Homo sapiens: one gene and its partners. The protein of the gene in region 2 purifies or fractionates together with the protein of the main gene of each other region. This does not show direct contact. Each region holds a gene or a part of one and is shown on either strand. Other genes may lie near its edges.

The links. Proteins that work in one complex are often made in the same cells at the same time.
Region 1: the proteins of DNAJC11 (region 2) and PDE6D purify together in Homo sapiens (affinity purification with mass spectrometry; one large-scale study listed by BioGRID and IntAct). This does not show direct contact.
Region 3: the proteins of DNAJC11 (region 2) and AKAP8 purify together in Homo sapiens (affinity purification with mass spectrometry, with the first as the bait; one large-scale study listed by BioGRID). This does not show direct contact.
Region 4: the proteins of DNAJC11 (region 2) and FKBP5 purify together in Homo sapiens (affinity purification with mass spectrometry; 2 studies listed by BioGRID and IntAct, with this or other methods). This does not show direct contact.

What each region holds. Positions count from the first base shown.
Region 1 is NC_000002.12:231,736,283-231,739,782, forward strand, and holds part of PDE6D (retinal rod rhodopsin-sensitive cGMP 3',5'-cyclic phosphodiesterase subunit delta), read right to left. Parts: intron 2,921-3,500; coding exon of another isoform or gene 2,907-2,920; coding exon 2,818-2,906; intron 1,857-2,817; coding exon 1,731-1,856; intron 1,011-1,730; coding exon 905-1,010; intron 1-904. UniProt on the Homo sapiens protein: Promotes the release of prenylated target proteins from cellular membranes. Modulates the activity of prenylated or palmitoylated Ras family members by regulating their subcellular location.
Region 2 is NC_000001.11:6,635,552-6,639,683, reverse strand, and holds part of DNAJC11 (dnaJ homolog subfamily C member 11), read left to right. Parts: intron 1-1,319; coding exon 1,320-1,389; intron 1,390-2,179; coding exon 2,180-2,237; intron 2,238-2,343; coding exon 2,344-2,486; intron 2,487-3,437; coding exon 3,438-3,567; intron 3,568-3,983; coding exon 3,984-4,009; 3' UTR 4,010-4,132.
Region 3 is NC_000019.10:15,369,788-15,373,287, forward strand, and holds part of AKAP8 (A-kinase anchor protein 8), read right to left. Parts: coding exon 3,064-3,500; intron 2,561-3,063; coding exon 2,431-2,560; intron 2,212-2,430; coding exon 2,165-2,211; intron 393-2,164; coding exon 359-392; intron 1-358. UniProt on the Homo sapiens protein: Anchoring protein that mediates the subcellular compartmentation of cAMP-dependent protein kinase (PKA type II).
Region 4 is NC_000006.12:35,619,416-35,622,915, reverse strand, and holds part of FKBP5 (peptidyl-prolyl cis-trans isomerase FKBP5), read left to right. Parts: intron 1-2,641; coding exon 2,642-2,784; intron 2,785-3,500. UniProt on the Homo sapiens protein: Immunophilin protein with PPIase and co-chaperone activities. Component of unligated steroid receptors heterocomplexes through interaction with heat-shock protein 90 (HSP90).

The DNA of each region.
Region 1 (3,500 bases), on a different chromosome or scaffold from region 2:
GATGATCCAATATTACACAATTATCTGTGGGACTAACTCTTTTTTTTTTGAAATAGAGTCTTGGTCTGCTACCCAGGCTGGAATGCAGTGACATGATCTTGGCTCATTGTAACCTCCACCTCCTGGGTTCAAGCAATTCTCCTATCTCAGCTTCTTGAGTAGCTGGGATTACAGGTGTGTGCCATTACGCCCAGCTAACTCTTTAGAAGGTACTATTACTATAACATTTGAGAGACTAACATCTTTCCCACAGACAATGGGAGGTAGGAAGTTATTGACAGTGTTTTTGGAAAAAGCACAAACAAATTGTTCTTGGAACAGGAACCAAAGCTATTAATATGGTAAGCCATTCTCCAAAAAACTGTAACCAAGTAGTATCCTCGAAAACAGAATTATTAATAGGACTTTGCCAGATTCTGTTAAAGGTGATCTAAACAAAATACAGAGATACCGGAAGTACGGTAGTCAGGAATGGGAGCAAATTAACATAGATTCGGTATATATATTAAATGCCAGTCTCCTTCCATGTCATCACATTTTATCTTCATTACACCTCTGTAAGACAGAATTAATTTCTGTGTTTAGAGATGAAAGACTAAGGCTCAGAGAGATAAAGTATATTAGTGCCCAAGATGACACAGGTAGTCAGGGTGAATCAGGAATTTAAATCTGGTTTAATCTAAAGTTTTATTTTTATTTTTAGTTTTTTATTCTTTCTACTCTATCATACTGTCTTTTTCATATGAAAAAGGTCAGGAACCTGGAAACCTAGATACCCTTGGATACTCTTTTACTCTATTTCTCAACCGAGCTCTCTGCCCACTGAATGGCACCAGGAGTCCCACCTGCCTGGAATGCCTGTTTCTAGACACACTTCATAATTTCCTGAGACCTGCTCACTCACGTTAAGACGCTTGCTGGCATCATCTGGGACTCGGGTGCTGCCTCTATCAAGGACTGCCAGGTATTTGTGGAGTTAGGGATCACAAAGCCAAACTCGAAGAACCATTCTGAAGGAAGAAGGAAAAGCCGGGGTGAGCAGGTGCCCCAGTATAAAGTTTAAGGGCTCTTTGTCTCCCTCTCTAGAGTGAGCCTCTTCCTACCCTGAGAACCACCAAAGGAAGCTATCAGCAACCTCTCAGACCAGGGGCGTAAAAAAGACAGGGAAGCCTGCTCAGGTTGTCCTCTGAACCACACCAAAGGCTTGCTTCTCATGCTTTGAGGTCTAAAGGACTAGGACCAGCGAGCAGGACACAATATAAGCAGCATTTTCTTAGAGGTAGGCTAGATGTGAACTATATATAGATACATAGTTAAATTCACTTGGAATTAGCTTGAAGGGGCTTATGTGCCCTTTACACTGCATGGTGAGAATTCAATGCAGAGTGGCCTTGCCAGTCAAATCTGTATGATACTGTATGTAGAGCACTGTACTAGGCCCTGCTCATAGCAGCTTCCTCCATGATCATATCACAATACAACGTCAGTGCCTAAACCAGGCACCACCATCCACGCTCCCAGTGTCAGAGACCTCAAAGCCCCTTGTAGTGGCTAGCTTTGTTTTGGTTTGTTTCACTGGGGATTCACAGTCTTGCAGAGTGTAGGAATCCTACCACAAACTGAGTTGTAAAAGGAATGTTATCAAAGCACTGCTTTAGTTCACTGGGTATTGTTGCCTTTTGTCCTGGTCGCCCTAAGCCCTGATTTCAGGCATGTAGGCAGCAGAATACCTTCTAGGCATTGCCCTTTGAAGTAAACTTTTTGTTCCAGGCGGAATTTTTCCATTTGTTCTGTCGAAGAAAAATTAAGTTCTCGAGACACTGCCTTGCACTTGAGGATTTTCTTGGGAACACGGGCTGGTAAGAGAAAAACAAATGTTGAAGCCTTTCTAAATGAAAACCACAGGACTATGATGCTTCAAATTTCTGGGAGCTTCTTACAGCTGATTTAGAGAACACTTTCTTACAGCTGATTTAGAGAACACTTTCTTACATTTTGGATAATGCCTTGGTAAGTGCATTACACTTTGTGTGGCTGAAAGCAGAGGTCTCTAATTGGTCACCCGTATCTGAAAGATATTAGATCTTCAAGGAACACCAGGTTTTGTGCATCTAAGGGCCTCATCTAACTACTCTCATCAGGAAGGGGGCTGCATGGGTACCTTCTCTCTACTCTGTTCTGGTGATTTTAACCCCTTCCTTCTTCTTTACTTCAGGGAGATAAAAATGCAAATTTTCTTTTGGAGAAAAAGTTGAGATCTTAGTTTCTATCTTTGGGTATGTTCTAATGGTAAAATATCAGCACAAAATGGGTTTTGGGAAGTGAGAGAAAGAACTGTTAAGAAAGTAACTGGCTGGGCGTGGTGGCTCACACCTGTAATCCCAGCACTTTGGGAGGCTGAGGCGGGCAGATCACTTGATGTCCGGAGTTCGAGACCAGGATGGCCAACATGGTGAAACCCCATCTCTACTCAAAATACAAAAATTAGCCAGATGTGGTGGCGCACGCCTGTAGTCCCAGCTACTCGGGAGGCTGAGGCATGAAAATCGCTGGAACCTGGGAAGCAGAGGTTGCAGTGAGCCAAGATCACACCACTGCATTCCATCCAGCCTGGGTGATAGAGCAAGACTGTGTCTCAAAAAAAAAAAAAAAAAAAAAAAAAGAAAGTAACTGAAACTGTCAACAACACATGGATTAACATGCTGTGTCTTCAGGGGCTCACCCGCCTATTAGGTATGTGTTAACTTAGCTCTCTTATGCTCAGGTGCTAGTCTGGCATTGGTCACAGCCCTGTGTAGATAAAGGGTTGGAAAGTACCTTCATGCTCCACACCAGGGACAGACAGGTCTTCTGTTCCTTGCCAGAGTATCTTCCCTGTCTCAGCATCCCGAAGGTTCATCCAATTTCTGATCAAATATGACTAAGGAAAAATAAGGCACTGAAAGTGACTCCCACTTTGTATTCTAGGTGTCTCATGTTTACTCCCACCAACTCTTGTTTACTTTTTAAAAAGTTTGTCAAACTGCTCATTGCCATGGAAGCACATAAGAATGTGAGGAGAGTCAAAAAGACATCTAAAGGAAGAAGCAGAAACCTAGAGAAGTTACTTTTATCTATGAGAATCCTAAGACTGCACACACCTAGAGACTGCAAGAAAGGGACAGAAAACGAATAGTGCAAAATTTAAAATTTACCAACAGGATCTGACCAACCAAGATAAAATACCTAAAGAAACAAATATCAGATGTACCCCAAGGAAACAACTCATGAAGATCACTCTATAGTGAATGCCACAGTCCATAAACTTCACCCACAAGCACAGAACTCTCAAATTGCTTTGTAGTGGCCCCCTCTGTTTTTTTTTTTTGAAACAGAGTCTCACTCTGTCACACAGGCTGGAATGCAGTGGCACAATCTCGGCTCACTACAACCTTCATCTCCTTGGTTCAAGCAATTCTTGTGCCTCAGCCTCCTGAGTAGCTGGAATTATAGGAGCACGT
Region 2 (4,132 bases):
TTGTAAATCTTACTCTCAGAAAGGACTGGAGTTTATAGAAGTGTTGGGCCTCGGCTGGGCGTGGTGGCTCACGCCTGTATTCCCAGCACTTTGGAAGGCTGAGGCAGGTGGATTACCCGAGGTGAGGCGTTCAGGACCAGTCTGGCCAACATGGTGAAACCCTGTCTCTACTAAAAAAATAGAAAAATTAGCCGGGCGTGGTGGCACGTGCCTGTAATCCCAGCTACCTGGGAGGCTGAGACAGGAGAATTGCTTGAACCTGGGAGGTGGATGTTGCAGTGAGCCTAGATTGCGCCATTGCACTCCAGCCTGGGTGACAGAGCAAGACTCGGTCTCAAAAAAAAAAAAAAAAAAAGTGTTGATCCTCTAAACCATGGCCTCAAGAAAGAAGAAGTTTTCCTTTCTCCTTTCCCAGCGCTGAGTTTAAGAGGAATGCGTTCTGGATCCGTATGTGAGGGGCCTGCGTTAACTAGAGTCTTGAAAGTCACAGAAACACAACGTTTTTGCAGTTTCTTAGATAATCCATTGGGGCATGCCGTGAAACCTAAATTATTAGTGCAAGCATCTCTACAGAAAACTGAGAGCTGGTATAGATTTGTTACTTTATAATATCTCATTTAGTAAAGCATTGCACTTAGAGAATCTCAGATAAAGGAATGAATCTCCTCTTCTGGGCCCGTCTGGCCTTTGGACTCAGAATCCTAATTCCCTAGGAGGCTTGAGGCTTAGAACAAGACATGTGCTGGCCCAGCCTTCTCTCAGAAGGGAGGACAGGCATATGCTGACCCCAAGGCCCATACTTTGTTACAGGAAAGCGGATCTGTGTGTCTAAAGTGGTATTAGTTGTTCCTACCAAAAGTGTTATTTAACAACTCACGCCTGTAACCCTAGCACTTCGGGAGGCCGAGACAGTAGGATCACTTGAGCCCAGGAGTTCGAGACTAGCCTGGGCAATATAGTGAGACCCCCATCTCTATCTTAAAATTAAAATTAAAAAAATAATAATCCCACAAGGTTGGTGGGATCTCCTGAAATTCTCCTGTGGTGGGGTCTTCTTTCCAAAGAGACTGACAGTCGGTGTCCCGTCAGCTTGGTGAGGAGGTGGGGCAGAGCCATCTAAGGATAAAATGAAAGCTGCCAGCCTGTGACTAACAGACTTGCCTGAGACTGTCGTGGGAATATTTTTTAAAGTTCTACAACTGAACTCCAGTAAGATCACAGACTGTTTGCTGGGCTCGGGTCCAGCACGGGAGGGGCTGTGTTGGCTGGAAGCTGGGCAGCGCCGCGCTAACGTGGGGCTTGTGTTCCTCTCGCGTAAGGGAATTGGAGAAGCAGAGGGAAAGCGCCGCCACCGATGTGCTGCAGAAGAAGCAAGAGGCGGAGTCCGCTGTGAGTGCTGCCCCACCGTTCCCAAGCGAGGGCTGTAGGGGACACACTCCACACCCCACATGTTGGTCTCAGGGCCTTAGAGGTCAGACTTCTCTTCTCCAACAACTTGGCTCTCCACTTAGTCTTTATTGTGGGATGCGACACTGGGCTCTGCAGTCCCTGCCCTGAAGATAATTACCCTCCAAAGGCCTAACAAGGGCTTTTTTAAAGTGGTGAGTATTGGCCTCTTTTTCTTCCCTCTGAGTGTTCTGCCTTTTACTGAGCAGGAGGGAGCAGGCTTCCTGGGTATGTGGCGAGCATACTGCCAGGTGGCCATGGGCCGTGTGCGCGGCCTGGCGAGCACATGCCTGTCTGAGGGGGCGGCACAGCTATGCCCAGCAGAATGGCACCACAGGAGAACACAGGTCCTTTCTCAAGAGGAGCTGGGATTCCAGCTTCTCCTGTGAAATCTCTTTATTTTTAAAGCTGACAACGCATTGTTTTTTTATTGGGTCAACAAATCCCACCCACGCATTAATGATCCCTAGAAAGGGAGCTCCCACCGGTGGCCACCGGAGGGTCATGCCGTTTCAGGTGCTTCTCACCTTCTGACCCAGAGCTGCCTGCCCTAGGTCTAGGAGTTTCAGAGTGAGCCACTCGGGTAGCAGAGCTGTCAGGGTGCCCACTCCCTTCCTTTCCAGGCCCTGAGCAAGTATGTTGACGTGGACAAGACTGCCTGCCTGTGGCCCTCTCACCAGAGGTGGAACAGGCCTGGCAGGGCCCTGACTGTGTCATCCTTGTTCTCTGGCAGGTCCGGCTGATGCAGGAATCTGTCCGAAGGATAATTGAGGCAGAAGAGTCCAGAATGGGTGAGAACATGTGTCCTCTCTTGGTCCAGGGTGGGCGCTGGGGGTCTCTAAGCCACACAAGGAGGTGCCTGGAGGAGGCCTTCCTCTACTCGGAGTCTGTCCTTAGGCCTCATCATCGTCAATGCCTGGTACGGGAAGTTTGTCAATGACAAGAGCAGGAAGAGCGAGAAGGTGAAGGTGATTGACGTGACTGTGCCCCTGCAGTGCCTGGTGAAGGACTCGAAGCTCATCCTCACGGAGGCCTCCAAGGTACAGCAGCACCAGCCACCACATGCTATGTGCTCACAGATTTGAACAGGCTGGGCGCGGTGACTCAGGCCTATAATCCTAGCACTTTGGAAGGCCAAGGTGGGCGGATTGCTTGAGCCCAGGAGTTCAAGATCAGCCTAGGCAACATGGCAAAACCCTATCTCTACAAAAAAGAGAAAAAATCAGCTGGGCATGGTGACACACACCTGTTGTCCCAGCTGTTCGGGAGGCTGAAGCGGAAGGATTGGTTGAGCCCAGGAGGTTGAGGCTACAGTGAGCTGTGATTGTGCCACTGCACTCCAGCCTGGGTGACAGAGCAAGACCCTGTCTCAAAACAAACAAACAAACAGTGGTGTGAAGAATAGGTTCAGTCTGACAAGGACAGCCTGGCCCCTTAAAGTGGGATCTTTGCCGTCATCAGCATCTACTGTGTGGGATGCTGCCCAGCTCCTGAGTAGTACCCACGTTGGAGCTATTCTCTTCATTCAGTCATTTCTTTCACCACTCAGTAAGGATTTACTGAGCCCCTGGTGTGTGCCAGTCACACCAGCAAACAGAACACACGCCTGCCTTCATGGCATTTGATTCTGTTTATTTTTGCCTCATTCCAGAAAGATCATGAGGTCACTTGTAACATGTGTGAGTCTTGCCTCTGGGGCCTGGGGCATGGACCATACAGAAGGATGAAAATGCAGGTTAGCTCAGGCCAGAGAGTTCCTGGCACCCTAGAAGTCATCTGGTGGCCCTGTCTTAGTGTGAGGATAGGGCCTTTATTAAGAAGCGAGTCTTGGCAACTTTTTCAAATTCTTGTTTCTTTTTCTTCATGCCCCAAAGTTTGCATCTCCCCAGGGAATGTCAGAGCCTGTGCACACTGCCCCTCCGGTGGTAGTGAGGAGGAGTGCTGGTCTTAGACCGTCTGGAGTATTGAGAGTAGCAATTTGTTTGTTACAGGCTGGGCTGCCTGGCTTTTATGACCCGTGTGTGGGGGAAGAGAAGAACCTGAAAGTGCTCTATCAGTTCCGGGGCGTCCTGCATCAGGTGATGGTGCTGGACAGTGAGGCCCTCCGGATACCAAAGCAGTGTGAGTAGCCGTCCCTTCGCAGTCACCAGCTAACGGGGGCGGGGACCTCGAAGCGGCTGCTCAGTGTGTGGGCTGCCAGCCACCTTCCACCTTCCTCAGCTGCCCACCTGGGAGCAGAGACGCCAACTAGCCCTTGACCCATGATTCACTCAGAGCCCATGATTTGTGCCCTAAAAGGGGGGCTGGGGCCCTTTCACAGGTAGAATTAGAGTGAGCGCGTTGGAAACTGCGGCTTGAGTGGCGGGGGATGAAAGCAGACCTCTACGTTCCAGCAGCAGTTGATTTTCAGCAGCGGGTGCTCTGCCTCGCCTGGGCCCAGCCAGCTGCTGGTCCGGGTGACTGCTGAGCCCCATCAGTAGAAAGGTGCATGGGAATGGCCACCTTCTGATCACCTGCGTCTGTCTTTTCCTTTACAGCCCACAGGATCGATACAGATGGATAAACTGCCAAGAACCAGATTTTTAAAAGGCCGCAAAAAATCTTTTCCTGGGAGTCTACAAATTTGGAAATGAAAAAACCCAGACATCAGATGTTTTTATTTTATATTATTATTATAGAAGGTGGT
Region 3 (3,500 bases), on a different chromosome or scaffold from region 2:
TCAGGGAAATGCACTGGCCGAGGAGGGCACAGAAGATGGGCTGGGGGCCTCTTCTCTCATGTTTCTCCTTCCCTACAAACTTCGACTGTGGTGGACACCCAAGGCTGCCCCCCATCCCCACTGCAGCCCACATCGGGTCAGGCAGACAGACCCGTTTCCAGTAAATGCTGCCCCAGACACTTTGAAGCAAAGTGTTGGCTGATCGCCACGGTCAAGGCCCATCTGGTGGCTGCAGCCCCTCTTCCCCCACAGCCACGGGCCCCTCCATCCAGGCCCCTGGCTTGCTCAGAAGCTGGGCAGTAAGTGCGGGGCAGCTGGGAAGACACAGGAAAGCTGCAAGGGACACGGTGATGCCTACCTCTTTGCCTCCCAGAGTCGCAGAGTTCATCCTCCTGGAAAAGAGTATACACAAAGTCCGGCAGTGAGCTGGTGTGTCCAGACTCTCCACAACCAGCCCAGTCCCTGGCCACTGCCTGGTGGGCAGTCTCACCCAAGACCTAGGTTGCTATGCCACCAAGAATGAGCCACAGTGTGTTAGGACCAGCCTCCGGGGCTCAGGACAGGGCCTGTGTGTCCTGTTATTACTCCTAGTTGCCTTCAGAGATTCTGTGACAATCACCTTGCTAAAAAGCCATTCACCCACCCTCTCTCGGTTCCTCCTAAGCTGCAGAACTGCCTGCCCCATGACAAAGACCCACCCGTACAATTCTATGAATGGAGCCTGTTCACCAACCGTAGGGAGATAGAGTCTCACTTGGGGGATGCCAGTTCTGGCATTCTTCATAGAAAATGGGTTCCACCACGTTTCCCGAGCTTTTGTTTATATTTACCCAATGTCTTTTTTTTTTTTTTTTTTTTTTTTGAGACGGAGTCTCGCCCTGTCTCCCAGGCTGGAGTGCAATGATGCAATCTCAGCTCACTGCAACCTCTGCTTCCTGGGTTGAAGCAAATCCTCTGCCTCAGCCTCCCGAGTAGCTGGGACTATAGGCGCATGCCGCCACATCCAGCTAATTTTTGTATTTTCAGTAGAGACGGGGTTTCACCATATTGGCCAGGATGGTCTCAATCTTGTGACCTCGTGATCCACCCGCCTTGGCCTCCCAAAGTGCTGGGATTACAGGTGTGAGCCACCGCGCCAGGCCTATATTTACCCGATGTCTTAATAACAATCACGTATAGATAAAAACGATTCAACTGAGAATCTGAACAGAGCTGACTCCTTAGGCAGTGAACATACGGCTAAATTAACAATCAGCAGGTTTACAGAGATTCCTAATCTCAAGACCAGCAAAATAGGGATCAAGTGAGACTCTGAAAACCTGAAAAGCCACCATCTCCTGCCTGTTCCCTGCCTGTGTGACTCTAAGGACTTGGGGAAGGCCCTCCTTCCCACTCTGGACCTCCAGGCCCTACACCTCCAACTTGGATCAGAATCTACACTGGGGTGGCTGAGGCACCTCCCCAAGAGCTTGGGGTGGTCCCGGCTATGAACTGGCCCCACGTGCTGCCTGCCTGTGCCTTGTTGTGAGGATGGAAGGATGAGGACACCAGTCAGCGGCACCCGGCACGGAGCTGGCGGCAAATGAGCCTCCAGCCTGTGCTTGGAGGCTTCAGCCCACAGTCCCTGCACTTACTGGCCTAGAGACCAGGGAGAGGAACTGGGAGCTTTTTTCAGAAAAGGAATGTTTGTTGTAAGTTGAAAACTTTTTTTTTTTTTTTGAGACGGAGTCTCCCTCTGTCGCCCAGGCTGGGGTGCAGTGATGCAACGTCAGCTCACTGCAACCTCCACCTCCCAGGTTCAAGTGATCCTCCTCCCTCAGCCTCCCAAGTAGCTGCTACTACAGGCAAGTGCCACCACTCCTGGCTAATTTTTGTATTTTTAATCGAGACGGGGTTTCACCATGTTGGCCAGGCTGGTCTCCAACTCTCGACCTCAAGTGATCCACCCACCTGAGCCTCCCTAAGTGCTAGGATTACAGGTGTGAGCCACCGTGCCGGCTAAGGTGGAAAACTTTTAGAAATCTAGCTAAAAGTCAGGGTCCTGAATCCACTCAGAGGTAGTCAAATCTACCATGGCAGCTGCTCCTGCCCCTTTGTGAGGAAGGGTGATTAAAGAAAGAAGAAATCCCACACTAGAGGCAAAAGGGCTGCCTGGTGGACTTACACCCTTGAATTCTTCATCTCCTGAGCGGAAGTCACCAGCTGCGTCATCTGCCAGACACAAAGAAAGGAAAAGTCAGTCCCCGGAGAACGGTCCCATCCGGTTTCCGCCCTCCCAAGCTCGCCATCCAGGGTGAGTCTGCCCTGACCACAGTGGGGTTGAAACATGCCACCTGCGAGTGTCCACGACACAGATGGGGCAAGCAGAGCCCCCAGCAGGCAGCCGACCCATCCTACATCTGTCTGGCCCACCTGGCCCCCAGGACATACCATTTTCGGAGAAATCTCCTTCACTGTCAACCCGGGCCAGTTTGGTGTCTGGCTCCTCGTAAAGTTGGAACTGCTTCCGTTTCCTGCCCGTGCCATCTGGTCCGAAGCGGTCAAACCCTCTCCTCTTGGGCTACAGACAACAAGCACACCCCATGAGCTACTTACGAGGGCCATGAAGATGCCCCACAGAAAAGAACAAGGAGGTTGTAGGATCAGACAACACAGGCACAAAAGGTCTTTTCAAAAAGCAAAGAGACAACATAATTTGAAACTAAAAAGAAAATCATGCTGAGTGAAAAGAAGCCAGGAACAAAAGGCCACACGTTTCGCGACTCCATTTGTGCAAAATGTCTAGAACACACAAATCCAGAGACCAGTGGTGGTTGTCGGGGGCTGGTGGGGGCGGGGAAGAGACAGGGGTGACTAATGAGAAGAAGTTTCTCTTCTGGTTGACATAAATGCTAAGATTAGACTGTGATGGTGGGGATGGTTGCACAATCCTGTAAATTAACTAAAAGTCGAACTGCGCACTTAAAAACATTTAAGTGAATGTTGAGATGGGGAAATTTTACCTCAATAAAGCTGCTAAAAAGAGAAGCGAAGGCGGCCGGAAGGAACCTTGCGAGGGCTTACCCGATCCCGATCCCGCATCCGAGGCTGCGAGCGGCCACATCCGTAGGGCATGGTGCTGTCATAGCCGCCCGCCCCCTGCATGCCCATCACGCCGTAGTCGGGAGCCATGGACTGGGAGAAGAGGGACGGAGGTGGCCGGCTGGGGGAGGGCCCTCCCAGGCCCCGTCCACCCACGTAGTTCAGCTCGTTCCAGGGCGTGGACAGGGGCTCAGAGGACGCAGCGGGGGGCACGAAGGGGTCGCTGCGCATGAAGGTGCCAGGGTTGCTCCGGTCCTGGAAGCGGCCCTGGCCCCGGCCCCGCATGAAGCCATCAAGGGAGCCCCGCTCCCGGGCTGGGTCTCGGCATTCACTGTACTGCCCCCCAAAGCTGCCATTGCGGTCGGACCCCAGGTCGAACTCATAGTCGTAGCTGTAGCTGGGGCGGTAGGGGTTGTGCT
Region 4 (3,500 bases), on a different chromosome or scaffold from region 2:
GTTATTATTTACATTTTGCAGGTGAGGAGACTAAGCACAGAGATTAAATAACTTGCACAAGTTTACACAGATAGTAAAGGGCAAACTTGGTATTCAAATCCAGGTATTCTGAAGTTAGAGTATGCTGCATTTTTGACCTCTAAAATGTACATCCTCCTTTCTACTGATGGAGAAAGAGGATGAAGATATATAATAAATGAAAAAGTAGTTTAGAACTGAATGTCTAGTTTGCTGTCATTTGTATTTTAAATTTTTTTAAAAAGTGACAGCACACAGTAGGATACCAAAGAAACGTAACAGTTACTTATAAGGAGCAGATGGATGGCCTTTCAGCTTTCACTTTCCATCTCTTTCATGGGTGTTTTAATAATAGGCATGTATTACTTGATTTTTTTTTTTTTTTAAGAGACAGGGTCTCGCTCTGTCACCTAGTCTGGAGTGCAGTGACATAATCATTGCTCACTGTAGCCTCTTACTCCTAGGCTCAAGCTCTTCTCCTGTCTTAACCTCCAAAGTAGCTGGAGCTACAAGCATATGCCACCATGCCGCACTAATTTTTTAAATTTTTGTAGAGATGGAGTTTCACTATGTTGCCCTGGCCGGTCTTAAAACTCTTGGGCTCAAGTGGATGCTCCTGCTTTGGCCTTCCAAAATGCTGAGATGAGAGGTATGAGCCACTATTCCTGGCCACTTACATATATTTTTAACTGAAATAAATGTAGCTGACATTTTGAAAAGTTGTAATATTTAATGAAGATTAAGCTAAAGTCATGAATAAAAAATGGTTTATCTATCCCTGCTTACATACTGTTATGTAGGGTTTCCCTTGTCCTAATATCCTACCACCAGCTCACTTCAAATTCACTTCCTCTGGGGTTCATCTCTTATCTGATCCTACTTTTGAATACTTACATTTTTGTTTTTGTTTTTTGAGACAGGACAGGGTCTCCACTCTGCTGCCCAGGCTGGAGTGCAGTGGCATGATCTCAGCTCACTGCAGCCTTGACCTCCTGGACTCAAGTAGTCCTCTCTCCTCAGCCTGCTGAGTAGCTGGCAAGCACCACCACGCCTGGCTCATTTTTTAAATATATTTTTTTGTGGAGATGGGGTTTCACCATGTTGCCTGGGCTGGTCTCAAACTCCTAAGCTCAAGGGATCTGCCCGCCTTGGCCTCCCAAAGTGCTGGGATTACAGCTGGGATTACAGGCGCGAGCCAACGTGCCCAGCCCCCAGATACTTAATATTTCTGATTGACAGAGTACCTCATTTGTCATTTAGCCTTTTTTTTTTTTTTTTTGGAGACAGAGTCTTGCTGTGTCGCCCAGGCTGGAGTGCAGTGGCATGATCTCTACTCACTGCAACCTCCGCCTCCCAGGTTCAAGCAATTCTCCTGCCTCAGCCTCCTAAGTAGCTGGGATTACAGGCACGCACTACCATGCCTGGCTAATTTTTGTATTTTTAGTAGAGACGGGGTTTCACCATGTTGGCCAGGCTTGAATTCCTGGCCTCAAGTGATCCGCCTGTCTTGGCCTCCCAAAGTTCTGGGATTACAGGCGTGAGCCACCATGCCCCACCAAAATGTAATTTAGCCTTTTAAATGGCCTAAATTTTCTATTGTTTCCGAAAGGACTTGATACTGCTTACAGTAAGATAATGATGCACATCATAGGAACTATAAACATTGAGATTACAATTATATAGCCTAATATAGTTCTACAATTGAGCAGTAAATTTAACTTAGTTTCCTGGAAGTAGGCAAAAAATAAAATATTTTAAGTTCTGTAGTTGTGGTTTGACAAAAAGACACATATGTTTTTGTTTAAAGGAACATTTTTCTGATTCTAAATTTTGAGAAGAAATGTGTTTCATGGACCCTTTTATGCAATTTATCCTGTTCTGGTTACTTCTTGTTTTGTTGTTTTTTTTGTCTACCCAACTAAATTATAAGCTTCCTTAGGACACACTCTATTTTTCAATACTATTTTTGTTCTATCTCTGCCTAGAAAATTTGCGCTTATTATAGTTGAAATGATAAATTAGGCAACAATTGCAACATAGCCATATTTCATGGATAATGTTACCACCAGTTTTCAAAGACTTAATTTTTGAGTAGTTTAGGAATTTATATTACTTTCATCCCTTTCAGCAGGGAATCCTTTTTGAGACAGGGTCTCACTCTGTCACCCAGGCTAGAGTGCAGTGGCATAATCATGACTCACTGAAGCCTCAATCTCCTGGGCTCCCAGGCTTAAGCTGTCCTCCCACCACAGCCTCCGGAGTAGCTGGGACTACAGGTGTGCACCATACCCAGCTGTGTTCTTTGGTTCTTTGGGGTGTTTTTTTTTTTTTTTTAGAGATGAGGTCTTGCTGTGTTGCCCAGGCTGGTGTCAAATTCCTGGACTCAAGCAGTCCTCCCACCTCAGCCTCCCAAAGTGCTGGGCCGATCAACAGGGAATCTTTTGTGATAGCCTTCAAAAAAAATAATTTATTTATTTGTATGTAGCACTCTGTCATCTTGTAGCCCATACTTTCTAGCTGAGTATGTAGTATGAAAAACTGGAAATTAGAACTTTGGTTTTATGAAAGTTAAATCTTTTTAAATAGGGCTTATAGCTTTCAACTACCTTTTCCTTTCCCTTAGGCCAAGTCATCAAGGCATGGGACATTGGGGTGGCTACCATGAAGAAAGGAGAGATATGCCATTTACTGTGCAAACCAGAATATGCATATGGCTCGGCTGGCAGTCTCCCTAAAATTCCCTCGAATGCAACTCTCTTTTTTGAGGCAAGTATGTGTGTGATGTTGCCTTGTCAGCATCTGCTCTACAATAGGAATGGCTTTGAAGCAACAGGCAGTGGGAAAAGGAGCTAAGCTTGCTATAGAGAATCAGATCCAACTTACTTATTTTGGAGCATGGCTTCTTGAATTGTTTCCCACAAACCCAAGGGTGCGCGTGCCAGTGCTTTCTTAGAAACGTGTTTCTAGCACAAAAAGGTCATATCCAAATAAACAAAAGACGCTACACTTAGAAATAAAGATTCTGGTCCATGGTGTGAGTGTGACATACTCAAAATTGACCAGAGTACAGGATGGAAATGTTGGCGATAAATGTTGAAATATGCCTATGTCACGTTGCGGGGTATTTACATATTATAAAAATTTATGTGTCACAGATCTCACTTCTCTAGAAGCCGTTGGTGGTGATAAAACATTATTCATCCTATGTTGAATTACATATATTTGGCAAAACTTGATTTTTAAGAACCACCCCAGCTAGGTAAAATACACCTTTAATCAGTCGTAGGTCACATCCATGAGATTTATTCTTACATTTTGAGAAGGGAACTCCATAAACCCAGGATGGGAAAGTTGTGGCCTCAAACAAAATAGTTCTACACCAGCACCTTGTAGCTCTGGCTTTTTGCCCACAGGGTAGTTTTCCTAGTATTTCCTATCTTTGCACTGCAGTCCCTTAGGATATAGTTCTAGACATTAGCATT